Linked DNA regions of Homo sapiens: region 2 is linked to region 1. The links come from fine-mapping of genetic effects on gene expression. A gene starts in region 1. The other region holds a variant in brackets. All regions are shown on one strand. Distances are from middle to middle.

Region 1 (8,906 bases):
TAAACCTGGCAGAACTCCAGGGTGGGTAATTACATTCTTTGGGGTGTGTTCTCACCACACACACAGTCTGTGGATTATTTTGGAGCCTTCTGTATGAATTGTGCTAGAAAACATGAAAAAATATTATCATTATTATTTTTTAAAACATCTTTAAAAATAAGGCCTTTCTAAAGCCACAGAGGCACCCTCTCTCTGATTGCATTTTTGCCAGTTGGTTAGCTGTCAGCAATCTGTTCTTAGATCATAAATTTGATGGTCCCCCCACCCCCTTGAATTGCTTTACACTAGAAACCTAAAATGTTAAAGCCAGAAGAAACCTTGGTGAAACACCCATATTTTGCAGATGGAGAAACTAGTCCAAGAAGGGAAGGAACTTGCCAATACCACTATCACAGGTAATAGGAGGTAGAGGAGAGAATGGGCCTCCCCAGACCTGACATCTGTCCTTTCTCTCCCTTACCCCAGCCCCTGCTGTCAAATGGAGTTACAGAGTGTCAGAACCAGAAGGGTCTGTAGCCATCACCACATCTAATCTTGTCATTTAATAGATGAGGAAACAGTCTTGTAGAGGAAATGGACTTGGCCCCTAAATTGATACTGGGCATGAGAAGTGGTTGGACTCTTGTCTCCAGGATTCCACTGGCACTCCGTGGCCTGTCAGTCAGATCAAGCTCAGAGGCACTACTCTTACCCTACCCCTTTTTTCCCTAAGTCACTATATTCCATATCCCATATATGTGTGTGTATATATATATATATTCCATATTTCTACTTTTCCTTGAGAAAAGAATCTGAGGATCTAGCCACTCTAGGCCTACAATTCCTCATGGTAATAATCTGCTGCCTATTGAGTCCCTGTGGCCACCTTTAACAGGGCACAGTCTCTCTAGTTCCGTTTGTCTTCCCCATTCTCCCCAACTTGGCTCACTTCATTCATTTCCCTGCCTGGCTCAAGGAAGCATTTGCATTTGTAATCCCTGTCCAACACCATTCTCCTTGATTTGCGGTGTCAAAACAAAGCCAAAATAAGTAAATCTTAGACTGTTTTGGCTACATGGTAAGAGGACTTAAAGTATGCCAAAAATATGAGCTGGGATGGGTCATAATTAATTTGAGGAGTAGGTGCCATGCTGTCTCTAGAGCACAATTTGAGCAGCATTTGGAGGCTTTTCCAATGGGATGTCAGCCACCTGGAGTTCCTCCATTAGATACTTAACTGCTGGACTTTAATGAGCACCCATCTTCAGATATCCCACTTTAAAATATGAAAAGTCTTAAAAGATAATCAACTTAATTTTTCTTCAGTGTAATATAATGGGAGGGACGCTGCAGGGTCCTGGTGCCCAGTCCCTGGCATGCCAATCACTAGTCCCCTTAAGGAAGGTTTTTTGGCCTCAATGCTATTTATATTTGGAACCAGATAATTCTTTTTTGTGGGGTGGATGCTCTGTGAATTGTAGGATGTTTAGTGGCATCCCTGGCCTTCACCCATGAGATTCCAGGGGTACAATTCCATAATTGTGAGAACAAAAAACATCTCTGGACATTTTTGCCAAATATCCCCTGGGGGAGAAAATTGCTGTCAGTTGAGAACCACTGTCTTAAGCTAATCATGTAGCCACTTTGAAGACTTTGCCACTTTGGGAATGGCAAATAGGACTGGGGACTCTAAAGAGAGACAGCATGATGAGCTAATAAAGGATGACGTCAAATAAGTTATTTAGGGAAATGAAGCTGTTTGGTAGGTAGTTCTAACCTTTGAGGATGAGGAAATGAGAAAATCACCTTCTACCAGTGGTCAATCTTTTCTTTCTCATGCACATGCCCGCTATTGTAACTAGCATACTAAAAATGCCCCCATGGCTCATCATGGTCCACCAGGAATTCAGTGGGTTCCAAATCCTGACACTGACTTCCTCTAAGTTCCAAGTTCCCCAGTACACTCTTCCCAGTTATGCACTGCCGGCTCCAGGCTAACAGAGCACGTGGCATTCTTTCCTGCCCCCAGCCTTTGCTGGGGCTCTTTCCTTGGTTTGCATGTCCTTCCCAGTCCTCAGTTACTGCCTATAATCTCCTCATCCTTCACGGCTCAGTTCTTTTGAAGCCTTGCTGGATCCCCACAGACAGACACACTGATTGCATCCTTCTTTGCTCCCCCGCTGCTGTGTTTACATCTTTTAGAGCACTTGTCATGGTCTTTCTGGGTGACAGTTGTCCGGGTTCGTCTGTCTTCTTCTTCTGCCACATTCACCTGCCTTGAGGCAGAGACTGTGTCTGATTCCTCTTCATATTGCCCAGCACCTGGCACCCTGTGAGATACAGAATAGGTTCCCCACCAACATTTGAAATGAAGAGAATTATAAAGAAACATGGAATAAACATTGAACCTAATGTAGTTTGACCTAGATGCCTACACTTGAAATATGTAAGTTCTATATTTAATCAGTGAACAACTATGTATTTAATAGACCAAGGGGAGCTATTGACCATACTTGAGCAGGGCAATGACGTAGACCTCTGTTTTAGGAAGATCTGCTTGACTATATGATTTATAATGACCATGGAAAATTCATCTTTTTGACTCCCTTAAAAGTCCCCTCCCTACAAAGTATGCAAAACAAATCTTACCTAATGCAGGGGGACATTGAGGTTTTGCTTGTAAAGGGTCTAAAGAGCTTCCTCTAAAAGGTGATTGCAAGGTGTGAAGCCTTTAATGACAGCCTAATTATTATTATTACCAGGCACAAAGCTTAGGGAACCTAAAAGATCCCCAGGTACTATTCAAAGTAGTAAGATACAAAAACTGAAAATGGAGAAATTAAAAGATGGAATCATTAAATCAGAGACTCTTAATGTTGGCAGAGACCTTAGAAGTGATCTTTCCTGATTCTGTTCTCTCATCTTCCTATGCTGATGCTTATTCTTCCTTTAGAAGGTTCCTACCCAGTGCTTGCTGTTATTAGAGCCTAAGAGTTAAGAGCTGGGGCCTGATGGTGGCATTTACTGTGTTTAAATGCCCAATCTCTTTCATTAGCAGTGAAAACTTGGGGTGAGTTTTTAGACCTCTGTTTCTTCATCTATAAAATGGGCATGAGGCTACCTACACAGGTATTGTACAAATAAATGATGCAGGTGCATTTCTTAGCATGGTACCTGGCACATTCAAAATAGTGAATAAACATTAGCCTTAAAAATTATTTTAGCTAATTAATTAATATATGTGAAAGTGCATAGGAAATCACAAAGCATTTGACCTCCAAGTTGTTCCTATTTTGGGGCTTCATTGTACATGGTCAGATATTTTTTACAAATCCCAGTCCTTGTAGCTGTCACTCAAGTCCACATGATATACAGTCCTGGTGAGGGAAGTGAAGAGTCTGTGGATAAAATGGCCTATTCATATGGCAAAGCAAAATGGAGTCCAAAGTCTATTATTTCTTTCTTACTAAAGACAAAGTTGACTTTCCTTTTCCTGGATCATCTCCTGTTGGACAGGAGTCCTGGCCAGGGCAGTAAGTCAACTGGTAACGGCCAAAGCACTCAAGTTTGTAGGTTGTACTGTACATCTTAGTAGGTCTGTGTCTTTATGACTTAATCCCAGAAGTCTTATCTTTTTCATCTGTAAAACAGGGCTCATGGCCACTTTACAGGTTTGGAGTGAAGATAGATGGATAAAAATCTGTAAAGTTCCTTCAAAAACTGTATTCTGTGGCGGCTAGTGGCTGCTGCTTTGCATTTAACACTACTATCCTGAACACAGCTGATCTCTCTACAGGTTATTTCAGCAGAAGCCCTGGTCTAGGAGAGTCTATGAAGTTCCAGCTTACACCAGACATGACCAGCATCCAGAAAGACCTGAAAGAAGCTTGAATCCTCTCACTAGAATCCCTGCAAAATGACTCATGTAATTGCTCTGTGTAAGTATCCTTAGTCTTTATTGTACACCCACACGATTCTGATGCTATAGACTCCTGTGGAATGCAGGGAAAGAGAGAAGGGGGCCCATTTTAAATGCCTAGGATTGAAAAGAGACCACCGTTTCACTTGTAAAGGTAGACAGGGACTGTCAAATACCTGGTCAAAATACCTGCCAGTCACTCCAGATCCTCCCTTGTTTGTCTATCTGTCATTCCTTCCATTAGGAGAGAGAAAGCTTTTTTTTTTTTTTCCTTTAAATTTCCTAGGAGGGATTTCTAGGGTCTTTCCCTCAGGAATTAGTTGTAGGAATAATTGGGCCAGTGGAGTGCAGGAGATATATCCAGCGCAGCCCATGCACTCCTAGAAAAAGTGACCTAGATCAAGCAGCTGGTGGATTGAGGACTATTGTGGGGACCCCCTGCCACCTACTGACTTACAGCTGAACCCACATTCCCAGCAGCTTCAGCCTGGGGGCTGGGGGAGCGGGCAGACCGAGCTCAGAAAGGCAGGGGAGGGTAAAGAGGACTGTGGGGTTGCCCCTTTCAGGACCAAGTGCCACGTGTCACACACCCCCACCTCCACCTTTCTGCACACACAGAAAGGAGGATAAGGTGAGGATGGGAGGAAGGGGGAACAGGTAGGGAGGTCGGCTGTGGAACTCCAAGCTAGCTCGGTGGGTATTAGCATAGAGCTTGCTGCCTGTGTGAGTGTGAGGGGGAGAGCGAGAGAGAGCAAGGGAGGGAGAGAGAGGCAGGCTGCGAGGGGAGAGGAGAGGGAGTGGGGGAGCCAGCGCTCCAGCTAGCATGAGGACGGGCTTCTTTTCCCGTGCTCAGTTAATCTGGCTGTCAGTTGGTGTTAACGCTGCAGTTTAAGTGTTCGGATTCCAAGGGAAACAGACAAACCTCACGAAAGGAAGGAAGCAAGCAAGCAAGGAAGGAACTGCAGGAGGAAAAGAACAGGCAGAACAGCGAGAAGAATAAAGGGAAAGGGGGGGAAACACCAAATCTATGATTGGACCTGGGCTTCTTTTTCGCCAATGCAAAAAGGAATATGCAGCACATTTTTGCCTTCTTCTGCACCGGTTTCCTAGGCGCGGTAGTAGGTGCCAATTTCCCCAACAATATCCAGATCGGTGAGTGAGGGGGCAGCCTGGGGAGGGACTTTCTGGGTCTGGCCAGGGATTTTTTTGGGGATAGGGGTTGTGTACCCCCTCCCCGGTACTGACTGTTTTGCTTGGCTCCCTAAAGCTGTGCTGCGGTAACAGAAGGGAGACTTGGGCTTACAGCCAGAGGAGGGGGCTTCTCCTGATCGGATGAGGGGCAGAGGGGAAGTGTTCACACACGCACACATACCCTACTCGCACTCCAGGCAAGAGCATGTGAAATGGAGGAACCATCGCTTTGGAGGAAAAAAAAAATCAGGCTGGAAAGGGTGGTGGGTGTTTAAGGAGTTAACTCTATTGCTTGGTAGATGGTGCTTGATTCCATTTTTAATGTAAGTATGTATGGTGTGTGTGTTTTCACGTGTGTGATTATATATTACATATGCACATATATATGTAATTGAAGGAGGCAGTGCTTTCTCTGCTGGGGGACAGAAAAGAGACCCTCGAGAAGAAGGAGTGAGGGGTGCTGGGTATATTGCAGCCACTGAAATAATGCCAGAAGGCCCCCACTCCAAGGCGGGTAGGCTCCCTCTCCTGTTCTGGACTCCTCCAGCTGCCTTCTCTTTGCTGTCTGCCATGCTGCGCTGGTGGTCTCCACTCCCCCGATCCTGGAACTTCCTCGCCTGCCTTTTCTCCGTTCCTTCCTTGCCCCCTCCTCTTAGATTTCCTATCCACAGAGGTCTACCTTTTACACACACAAACACACACACGTACACATGCTCCTTTCTCCTCCTGTTGGCTCTCCATTATCCTTGTTACTGGGCTCCATCCTCTCAACTTGGAGGCAGGTTTCAACATGCTGCATGCTTTTTTTGTTCCCCATTTCCCCTTCTTAGTTGTTACACTTCTCAAAGGCCCCGCCACCCTCCCTGTATTTCTGAGGGGACTGACAGATATTGCTACTCCTGATAATCATGAGGGAAAGCAAAACAAACAGAAGCAATAACACCAATCACAAAGCATGTCCACAAGGGCTTGGGGCTTCCGTGTGACCAGCATGTCAGTGTCGTTTGTGTCCCGGAATGAAGCAAGCTGCTGTGTTTGGAAGCATCTTCGTTGGTTTGGTTTCTAGTCTCTCTCCCCTGGTAGGGAGATAGCTCCACTAGGGAAAGTTCGCATTGCTGGGAGTTTGTGCTCTTTTGTGAGTGTGTGTTTGAGGGGGGATGTGGTGCAATTGATATTTTGTCGGGCATACATGTGCTGCAGTACCCATCTCTTTCAGCCTCTCCAGCTAGCTGGCGGCTTGGAGTGGCCATGGAGTAACTTGCTTTGTTTCCTGACACCTGTTAAGCTACATCCTGAAGTGTGTACGTATCTGTGTGTTAGTGCCTAACACGCAAAACTTCCTGCCTTCAGGGGAGACACTTCCCTTGTAGCCCAGCCCGTAGCCTTCTACTCCTCAACCTCCCATCCTTTCTCTTTCATTCATTGCAGAGGAGGAGAAAGGGGACAGGGAAGTGTTTGGGGTGTGGTCATCTGGGGGGAAGGGGGAGCATCATAATCAAGAATTTTTTTTGTTTTCATTCTTTAAAATGGGAGCACTTGTACATGTGGAAATCACTGGCTCTTACATGTGGCATTGTTTACATTTGTGCTTATATACTACCTATCCTTTGTGGCTTGGAAGTGTTTGTCTAGTATATTTGTGTATATAGTAAATGGTATAAATGCATGAGGATGTTTCATGTATGTGCTATGTTTTCTCATGTATCTCTGCATATTTTTAAAATTATATTTAGCCCTAACTTGGTTGTTCAACTGATAAAGCCATTGCTACTGTTTTCAAAAAAAAAAGAGATTGAAGCATTAAATTGTAGAACAAAATGCTGAAAATATCACTGCCATCAGGTAGTACTTGATTCTATTTGTGTGATCTGTAACAAAAGGCTTGCAATCCATTTATTGGTTCTTAAAAACAGACACCCACTCTACAAGAAGTTAGAAGTGCATTATGTTTGGACTGTGATTACTGTCAGATTTGAGATAAACTTCTATGTAAACATCATTATAGTTCAGTCTCTAGAAATGGCTGATTTTAATTCACAGAAATGTAATTGATTTACATGTTGACAGTAAATACAAAGGTAAGCCATGGACTCTTGTTTCTCGGAACAGGCATCCCATCAGGCACCTTTACTATACCTTTTACTAGAATAGAATGTTTGTATCCTCTTGAGATGCCTAAGATCCCACATCTTTGAAGCACAAGGTTCCACCATGCAAACACACAATGGCAATCCCTTATGTAACAAGTCATTCCTAGGTAACTGGGATCATGTGTGGTGAAAGAGTAAGCAAAACATTGTTTGCAGAAAAGCAAGAGTTTTTAGAGAAAATGAATAATAAACCTTAGGGGCAATAGAATAGTTAAATTGCATGCAGGTCTTGCTAGGCCAAAGACTAAAAACTGTCCATGTAAACAGTTATAGTAGTGGAGAAGCCCACAGGGTCCCAGAGCTAGATTTCAATCACCCTGCAGCACTGATTAGTACCTACTTCCCGTAAGGCTCTCTGGTGAGAGATGAGGCTGATGTAAGAAAAATTAGACATGACTAGAGGGTGAGGGGGCTTATGTGTATGTTTATATAAGAGAATAGCAGCTCCTAGGTGGTTTGCACAAGGGAGGAAGAAGAGAAATGGCACAAGTCTCCTGTTTTCTCTGACTTTAGCTGAGTTGAGGGGTACACAATCAAATGTTTGAGCAAAGTAATAGATATTAGAGGCCCATGTCACAAAAAAGCTCATCTGTAGGAGTTTAAGTTTCAGTGTCCAGTTAAGCCTATTTGAACTCTCATCTCTACCACTCAAGGCTACAGCTAGTGAGTTTGGCATGGGGAGAAGAAAAGGACTCATCTGGAGTGAGTCGTGAGGAACTAAAACCTGTCTCTAGCCCATATACCATGTTGCATTTTCTTTTCTCATAGGGGGATTATTTCCAAACCAGCAGTCACAGGAACATGCTGCTTTTAGATTTGCTTTGTCGCAACTCACAGAGCCCCCGAAGCTGCTCCCCCAGATTGATATTGTGAACATCAGCGACAGCTTTGAGATGACCTATAGATGTAAGTAATTGCTTCTATTTCTGAGATGTCTTTCTGCGCTAGACCAATGAAAGGAGGGCCTGTGGGTAGGTGGTGGTGTTGCAAAAATGACTTCAGTTGCCATTCGTCTTTGTAAGAGAAAGCCCTCCAAGAAAAATTTCTAGAGGCTTCTGAGTGATTCCAGCAGTTGGCATTTTAGCCCCTGCAATGCTTCATGTAATGGATTTGCTTTTTCACTGTCAGCTAACTTTAATGCCAGCACGATGGGTGCTTGGGTTGACTGCATCTTCCCTACCTTGCAGAGGTTTTCTGGCACAGCTGAGAGAGTTTTACACATACGAATCTTCTGAGAGGCATAGAATTAAGGGTCCTGAGTTTGTGAAAATGTGGTTTAAAGTGCTTAAGGCATTTCCTATCTACATGTTAAATGGACAGAATGTAGCTTGATAAGAAATAATAGCTGAGAAGTTGTACACATCTGGTTCTTCATTTTCGGAAGTGACCAATAATTAAAACTTGGTGCCTTGGTCATTTTAAAAATAGCTTGAGGAAATTGGTTGTTTAAGGCACAGTTTGTAGGATGGTCATTGAGCATCAAACAGAACAAAGGTGGCCTCAAGAAGAAGGGATAGATAAATCTCTGACATCTGAATTGAATGCATTGTAAAATGTGGGCAACAAACACCATTCTGAGTTTTCCTGGCAACTAGGAATGAAAAGGAAGCCTGTGCTCACATGATTGGCTTTTCATGACAGATGAAAGCATAAAAATTAATCAGGAA
Region 2 (8,000 bases), 30 kb after region 1:
GAGACTCTGTCTCAAAAAAATAAAAATAAGAAATCTACCATATCTACTTCTCAGGCATAAATATGATAACTATTTCCTTTAATTTCCCATTGGATAAATAACTGTTTATAAACATCTAGTTGCCAGACCCATGCTTGGAGTCTCAGGGCTAAAAGAAATGCTCCCCATTTGCTCTATGTGCTAGTCACATCAATCCCACTTGATCCCCACAGCACCCTTTGGGGGAAAGAGAGTAGTTGATAATCTGATTTTACCAATGAACAAAGGCTCAGAAAAGACTAGTTGATCCTAAAAACACCACACAGCATTCTAATGTTGTAAAAATACCTGGATTTGAGTCCCCTGTACACTGATGCCTTGTGGTGTGGCATTGGCTCAGATGCTTCCCTCCTCTGGGATGTGGACTGGCCTCTGAGGTCTCTTTAACCTCTGGAATCATGTGAGCTGGAGCACCTGTTGGCTGGGGAGACAAAAGGCTGCTGCGTCCAGATCTCCCTTCACGAGGAAGAAATGTGTCTGCACTTTTCATATCAAAGCACTTGGGCAGCATGGGGGCGTATTGTGATGAGGCTGATGGATCCTCCCTGAACTGGTGCCTCAGCGTTCCCATGCCAACTGAGGGAAGGAAAAGAAAAAAAGGAAAAACAAAAATCAAACACGAAAACTGAGCTTGATCTAGAGCTGAAGAAAAATATTCTACTGATGGCAACATTCATGGCCGTATTATGAAGAAAAACAAATTCATAAAAACCTCAGCTTGGCCTTAATGGTTGGATCTTAAGATGAGTGACAAATGACGAAATATTGGGTATGAGAGAGAGGCAGGAGGTGGGAGGAGAGCAGGCCCTGCAATCAGAATCACTTATTTGTAACATCCATTCACGAATACATTGCCCTCAGCCACGCAGGAAACCCACACAGGCCTAGAGGATGCTCTCTGCTTTTTTCGTGGTCCTGCCATTCCCACCAGTACCCAGAGGCCCGAACCAGCGAGGAGAAAACATTCACTCTTTCTCTGAATATTCAATTGAACTTGTTTTCAGTTTCCTGACAGCATCCAGATCCCCAGAGTGCCTGCATGGCTTTATTTTTTCATCCACCGCCTGCTGACTGGTCCCTCTCTTAATACCCCTCCTCCCCCAGGGCTTGCTTCTTCCTGTTTTGTGGGGAGCAGAACATTTGAGCTTCCAGGGGTAGTAACCACTAGTGCTGGTAAGCACAGCTTTGGAAATCAGGGGAGGGACCCTCAAAGAACCATGGAAAGTCCCCTGGGCCCTCAGAAAGGGAGGGATCAAATTAAGTAAGGGAAACAGACATGAGATATGGGCAGATGGGAAGCTAAGTAGCTGTGGCAGCTCCTTATAAAGAGATCACAGCTGGAGATGCGTTCACTAATCCCACAGAATAATCCTCTGTTTCTCTTTCCTGAACCCCCACATCTAGTTCATCAGCAAGTCTGTCAGTGCTAGTTACAAAATATATTTTGAATCCACACACTTTTTTCAAAAAAAATCTCTACCATAACCCCGTATCCCTCACACTGTGATCTTTTTCCCATATCACTACATTAACCTCCTAACCTGTCTTCTTGCCTCCTTCCAGACAATGTTCCACCTGGAGGCTAAAGTGACTTTTTAAACGTATTGAGCTGAACATTCCATTCCTCTGCTTAAGTAAATGTAGACTCCCTTCCTTGGCCTACAAGGCCCTCCATGAACCTGTCCCTCCCTAACCTTACCTCTTGCCCCTCTCTCATGTAACTGGATTTCAGCCTTCCAGGCCTTCCTTCAGTTCCTTAAACAGGCCAAGCTGCCAGGGCCTTTGCACTGGCTGTTCCCTTTGCCTGGGATGCCGTTAAATCTCATCATGGCTGGCTCTAGTTCACTATTCAGGTCCCAATTCCCACGTTACTTTCTCAGAGAGTGTTCCCTGAACACTTAATCTAAAGTAAATTTCTAATTGCCCTCTCTTCCAGCACTTCAACATCCTTCAAAGCATTTTTTTTAAATAGCCCACAGGTGCTACTAAACTTTGAAGCTTTTTTTTTATAATTAGTACCCATTTTGCCTACTTACTTGTATTATCTGATGTCTTTTTTTACCTGCTCAGTGTAAGCGCCACAAGAAAAGGATCTGCTTCTTGTTCCTTGTATCCTGTGTCTAGTCTGGGGTTAGCACAGACTAAGTGCTTAGTAGACATTTATCAAGTAACCACATAAATGAATGAATTTCTGAAGTGGCTATTTCTTTCTACCTGGATTTGAGCTCAGCCCTGGGGATACAGACATGAAAAATACACAGCCACTACTCTGAAGCTGCTCATGGCCTAATGAGGGAAACTGAGAAGTCAGTAGTTTCAGGATTAAAAGCCAGTAGTTTCAGGATTAAAAGTATGATAATGTATATTATTAATCATGTGTATACATGTACAATAATAGTAATAGTGGCCAAACTTGAGCCATTATGTGCTCAGCACTGTACAAATATTATGCAAGTATTTTTTTTCATATAATTGCCACAATAAACTTATGAGTTAGTATTATCACATTTAAACTACATAAAAATGCATTTGGCAGATGCAGAAATGGAGATACTGCGAGGTTCAAATAACTGGGCCATGGGGACAGTTAGTAAGTGGCTGAGTGAATTCAGCCTGGCATCGTGCTCCATGTCAGAGCCAGTGCTCTGAAGCACTAGATCAGTGATTCTCAAAAGATGACCGTCCTGGACTGGTAGAGTCAGCATCACATGGCAGCCTGTTAGAAATGCCAGTTCAAGGCCAGGCACGGTGGCTTACGCCTGTAATCCCAGCACTTTGGGAGGCCGAGGTGGGCAGATCACAAGGTCAGGAGATCGAGACCATCCTGGCTAACACCGTGAAACCCCGTCTCTACCAAAAATACAAAAAATTAGCCGGGCATGATGGCACGCACCTGTAGTCCAGCTCCTCAGGAGGCTGAGGCAGGAGAATCGCTGGAATCGGGAGGTGGCAGCTGCAGTGAGCCAAGATCACGCCACTGCACTCCAGCCTGGACGACAGAGCGAGACTCCATCTCAAAAAAAAAGGAAAGAAAAGAAATGCCAATTCGAGGGTCTCAGGCCGGACCTCCTGAATCAGAAACTTTGGAGTTGGGGCTCAGCACTCTGTTTTAACAGGCCCCGCAGATGATTCTGAAGATGCTCACCAAAGTTTGACAACCACTACCTATTGAATGACTTAATTTTATGGGATACTAGATCAGACTAGATCAGAGTCTGAAGTTTTTCTGTAACTCAGTTCTCATCTTAACGCTGTGAGTGTAGATTGCTCTCAATCCACGGCTGAAGAAGCCAGATTGTGACTGAATAAAGCCAGTTACCCTGCCTGACCCTGGCTCCAGGACCTGCAGCATGTAAAACATCATCCAGGAGTGCAGCCCCTGTGAAGACAGCTGACCTGAAGGGCATGGAGTCTGTGACCCCATCCACCTTGAGAAGCATGCTTCAACCAGCAAAGGAAAGACAGTCCTAGACAAGGAAACATCATCAAGTCTCTCTGTAGGAATACTTCATATCAGACCATATTGCCATGTGTTGAAGATTATTATATAATGATAATAATTAGTACAATAGTAATACCATACATTTTGATTACATTTTTGACATTTTCAAGGCATGTTTATATTCTAATAATCTATTTTCCCTCTTGATAATTTTATTTTCTCCCTTAAAAATCTCTCCAGTTACACAAAGTAGAGTAGGAGTGAAAGGATTGTTAATCTGTTAATCTGCCTGTCCAGGGGAGAGGCAAAGTAAAGAGATGTATCTGTGATTTCATGGCCTGTTAGGTTCGTAGTAACAATAGCTAATGTGTGTTAGGGAGCTTAAGTGGGCCAGGCTCTTTGCTAGATATGTCAGTGCTTATTAATTTAATAAAACCTCTAGACCCAAGGCTTCCAGACTCCCAACTGGTCTCCTTCAGCAAGCAGCGTTTCTTTTCTTTCACCTCACTCTGAATTCTTCAGACTCTCTAGTCATTCATTTATTTTATTCATTCAACTTTTATTTAGCTTATACATCCTACAGAGAAGGTGAAGGGCACAGAGGTGAATGTGCTGGCCCACAAATTGCTAGCTCTCTCAGGGGAATCCAGAACAATGCAGTGCCACCCACAGTGGAGCCTTGAAGGACAAAGGCAAATTATTTACCAAATCAAAAGTTGCCAGATTCAAGATTCTCTGCAGTTCTTTGAGGTTTGAGCTTGGTGCATAAGAAGAAAGGGGGATTTTGTTCTAATGAAAGACAGGACACAAGGGCCTACCTACAAAAATTGCTGCAATAAATGAGGACATCATTAAAATTGTCTTTGTGGGGGCCCATGGATATGGAAGTGAGTAGGGAAGATGTATACAAGCAATGGAAGGAATAAAAGACAGAAGACTTCCTAGATCTAGTGCTAGAGGCTCCATAGTTCTGTTCCTTACAAATGCTGTAACTTTGGGCCAGCCTCCCAACCTATTCAACCTTCTGCTTCCTTCTCCATGAAATAAGAACCTGGATTTCTTACTCACCTGATTCACAGGGAACCTCTGAAAATCAAACGTAAGAATTAGTAATAGTAATAATAACAATATAAATAGCTAACATCTATTGAGCAATTATATTTCTTACTTTCACTGGCTTATTTCATTTAATCATGAAAGCATTTCCATGAAGCAGGTAATGTTTTAGGCCCCAGTTTATAGATTATAAAAACAGAGGTTTAGTAAATTACTAAGTTCACCCACCCTTAACAAGCAGTGGAACAAGGATTTGAATTCAGATCTGTCTGATCTTTGAACCTATTACTATTAAATCACTACCCCAGAATTCAAAAACAAATGAGGAAAACTCTGCGAGTCATGCTGATGAAATGAGCGGAATCAAAAGAGGGAACAAAAG[G/T]GAGGGCCTGGGGTCAGAGGCTGTTAGCTTGGCATGAAGGATGGAAAGCATTTCCAGATACCATGTCCTGAGTGAGCACAATGCTTAGGCTATGCAGCAGACCCTGGACAGTGGACCAAGGTTTAAGAGTCAGTGTGAACTTTCAGGAAGAAGAGTTTATGCAGAGTAACACATGCCATAAACAGAAGAAAGTATCAGGGACCAGAGAAACAGAGTAAGAGGCAGAGCTGGAGTCAGGCAGCTGCAGATTCCAATGGCCTCTGACTTTCTGCTGTAGCTGCAAAGGTACATTTTATTTAACTCCATGCCCAGCCCTGTGGCAGTCTGGGAGCCCTTTGACAGAACTACAGCTTCCACATCTGGCTCAGTGGGGAAGGAGAAATAGATCTTCCCGGGCAAAAAGAAGCAGCTCAGTCTTGCTGCCTTCCCTTGAGTCTGGACAGAACCATCCTCGGTGGTGAGCTTCCCAGAGCCTTTTGGGAGTGGCTCAGGGGACCAATTTGCTTCCTTGAAGAATTTTGAATAGCTTCAGATGTAGCTCTGGTGGTTGAAGCTAAGGACAATAATGAAAATAATATGATAGCTGACATTCATTGAACTCTAATCAGGGGCTTGTTTTAAGGCATATTTTAGGCTCTATGCACTGTTGTGTGTCTTGCTGCTCTCATTACACCAAAGATATTATAGCACACCCACATCTCACATTGAATCTGATTTATGTGTGAGTTGAGTGGCATTGCTGCACACTAGTTGGTGCAATGACATGTTTTATAGATATTTAAATATTTATTAATTTGATTTTACAGTTTGCTTTTAATATTTCAGAGTCAATATATTTATTTTTCTGGTCAGACATACTTTTTAGGCCCACCCTTCAAAAGACTGTAGGACCCAGACACTGAGTTTTCTCATGCCACCTGGAGAAAGTGATCCTGTAATTATTGTGTTGGGAGCTGAGTGCTCCCACACATTGCCTGTGGATAAGTGTAAGACTCTGGAATTAAACTGCCTTAGGTTTGAATCCTGAACCCACTACTTTCTAGCTGTGTAATCTTTGGCAAGTGCCATATCCTATTTGTGCCTCAGTTTTCTCATTTGCAAGATGGTTATTGTAAGGACTGAATCAGAGAACACATAAACAGTTTAAAATACTACCTGTAACCTGTATCATGGCATGTAAAGTTGTTATTATTGATATTTAAAATGTCCCAGTGAGGTAGCCACTATAGTTATTCCCATTTTGAAAATGAAGTCAATTTGATGAATGGTGGAGAGGGACATTGAACTCAGGTGGTCTGACCGTAGAGCTCATATTCATAATGAGTAAGAGTTTGTATCAGTCAAGTTAGGCCAGGTTATACCACAGTAACAAATGACCCCCAAACTTCCATGGGCTAATATAACATGAGTTTATTTCTTGGTCATGCTGCAAGTCCAACACAAAATGGTGGGGGAGTGGGGAGAGGCATTGCTCCTCATGCTTCCTTAGGGACCCAAGCTGAAAGAGGGACCATCCTAACATGATCACAGTGTCAAAGGAACTTATGTAATAAGCCACACCCTGGCTCTAAAGCCTTATTCCCAAGGTCACGGACATCATTTCCACACACAGTTCATTGGATCAAGCAAGTTGATGGCCAGGCTTAACTTTAAAGGAGGTAGAAAAGTGAAATCTTACCATGTAACTGCAAAATTGGGAATAGCTAAATGTTATCTCAGAGGAAGGTTTTGAGGATCAAATTAATTAATCTATGAAATTATCAAAAATAGGGCCTAGAACATAGAAAAATCTTCTTTAATGTTAGGTATGAATTCTTATTAATTAATGAATTGCCTCTTGTAGCAGCTCTCCTGTATAAATATCTTCCACCTGATTCTCTTGTTCCTGATATCTCTCTCTCTCTCTCTCTCTCTCTCTCTCAATGATCCATCTTGCAGACCTGATCCATTTTATTATTAGACCTCTCTCTTATCATGTCATCTCTCTTGTTCTCCCTTGTCTGATTGGGTAAGTTCAGAGTCCTAAGCAAGATATCTGAGGGCAATCCGTAATTCACTTCTAACCTACTCTGGAATTTTTTCTCCCACTTTTCTCTAAGGCTGTGTTCTAACTGGAAGGACTCATTCACTGTTCCCAAATTAGACTGGCACATTCCTACCCCATCCCTTGATATTCTTCATTCTTATTGTATAATCTCCCTTCTCAAATGCCTCTTGCCTTTCTGCAATTTTATATCCCTCATTATGCAGTTTACCACTTCCTCCAAGAAGCCTCATTTTTCACCACAGCCTGAAATGATTTCATTCAGGGCTGAACTTCCACAGTACTACTCATTTGGCTGAACTTTACTACTCATTTGACCCTGAACTCAGACTGCTTTGAACATTTTTTTTTTTATTTATGCTTATGTTGTTACTGTTGTGGAAAGAACACAGAGCACAGCATCAGACTCATATTGATCTAAATTTCAGGTCTGTCATTGACTGGCCTTGACACCCTGTGCAGGTCAGCCATGTTCTCGAGCTCCTTGCCCCTTTCCTGTGACATGAAAGTGATTATACCTATTTCATAAGAATGCTGCGAGGATAGAATTGAAAACAAGTTATAGTGACCTACATATAGGAGATGACTGTCCTCATCATAGCTGTGTCCCTAGTATCAAGAACAGTACCTGGCAAATAATAGTCAGCTCAATGACTATTTGTTGACTGAATGAATTATTAGTAATCACCAGCCACTCTTACTGCATGCTAGTTTTCTCCAAAAGCTGTAAGTTCCTTGAAGACAGCTTTGAAAAGTAAAGTTCTTTGGAGTCTTAGGCAACGGTTCTCAAGCTTAATTATACAGGAGAAGCAAGGAATGTTATTGAAATGCTAATAGTTGGAATCTGGATGTACTGAATCAGAATTCCTGGCACAGGGCCAGGCGCAGTGGCTCACGCCTGTAATCCCAGCACTTTGGGACGCTGAGGCAGGCAGATCACAAGGTCAAGACATAGAGATCAGCCTGACCAACATGGTGAAATCCCTGTCTCCACTAAAAATACAAAAATTAGCTGGGCGTGGTGGGGCTCACCTGTA

Which allele goes with the higher level. Alleles are on the strand shown, and positions count from the first base shown. SD is a standard deviation of normalised expression in the study named.
In carriers of allele G in region 2, the expression in tibial nerve of the gene that starts at base 4,750 in region 1 tends to be higher than with T alone (moderate effect, 0.45 SD a copy in GTEx).

Evidence for each region. PIP is the estimated chance that this variant, and not a neighbour inherited with it, causes the effect. A credible set is the group of variants that fine-mapping cannot tell apart.
Region 2: its variant is the best candidate, but not a certain one, in a credible set for the expression of GRIA1 in tibial nerve (GTEx, PIP 0.87).

Annotation. Positions count from the first base shown.
Region 1 is chr5:153,485,921-153,494,826 of GRCh38, forward strand. GRIA1 (glutamate ionotropic receptor AMPA type subunit 1) reads left to right here and starts at 4,750. Exons shown (of 16, transcript NM_000827.4): 1 at 4,750-5,050; 2 at 8,008-8,145. The coding sequence starts at 4,969.
Region 2 is chr5:153,516,207-153,524,206 of GRCh38, forward strand. All of the region lies in intron 2 of GRIA1 (glutamate ionotropic receptor AMPA type subunit 1), which reads left to right. Among named protein-coding and RNA genes, the nearest start is that of GRIA1, 30 kb to the left of the region's middle. The variant G/T (reference allele first, on the strand shown) is at 4,920.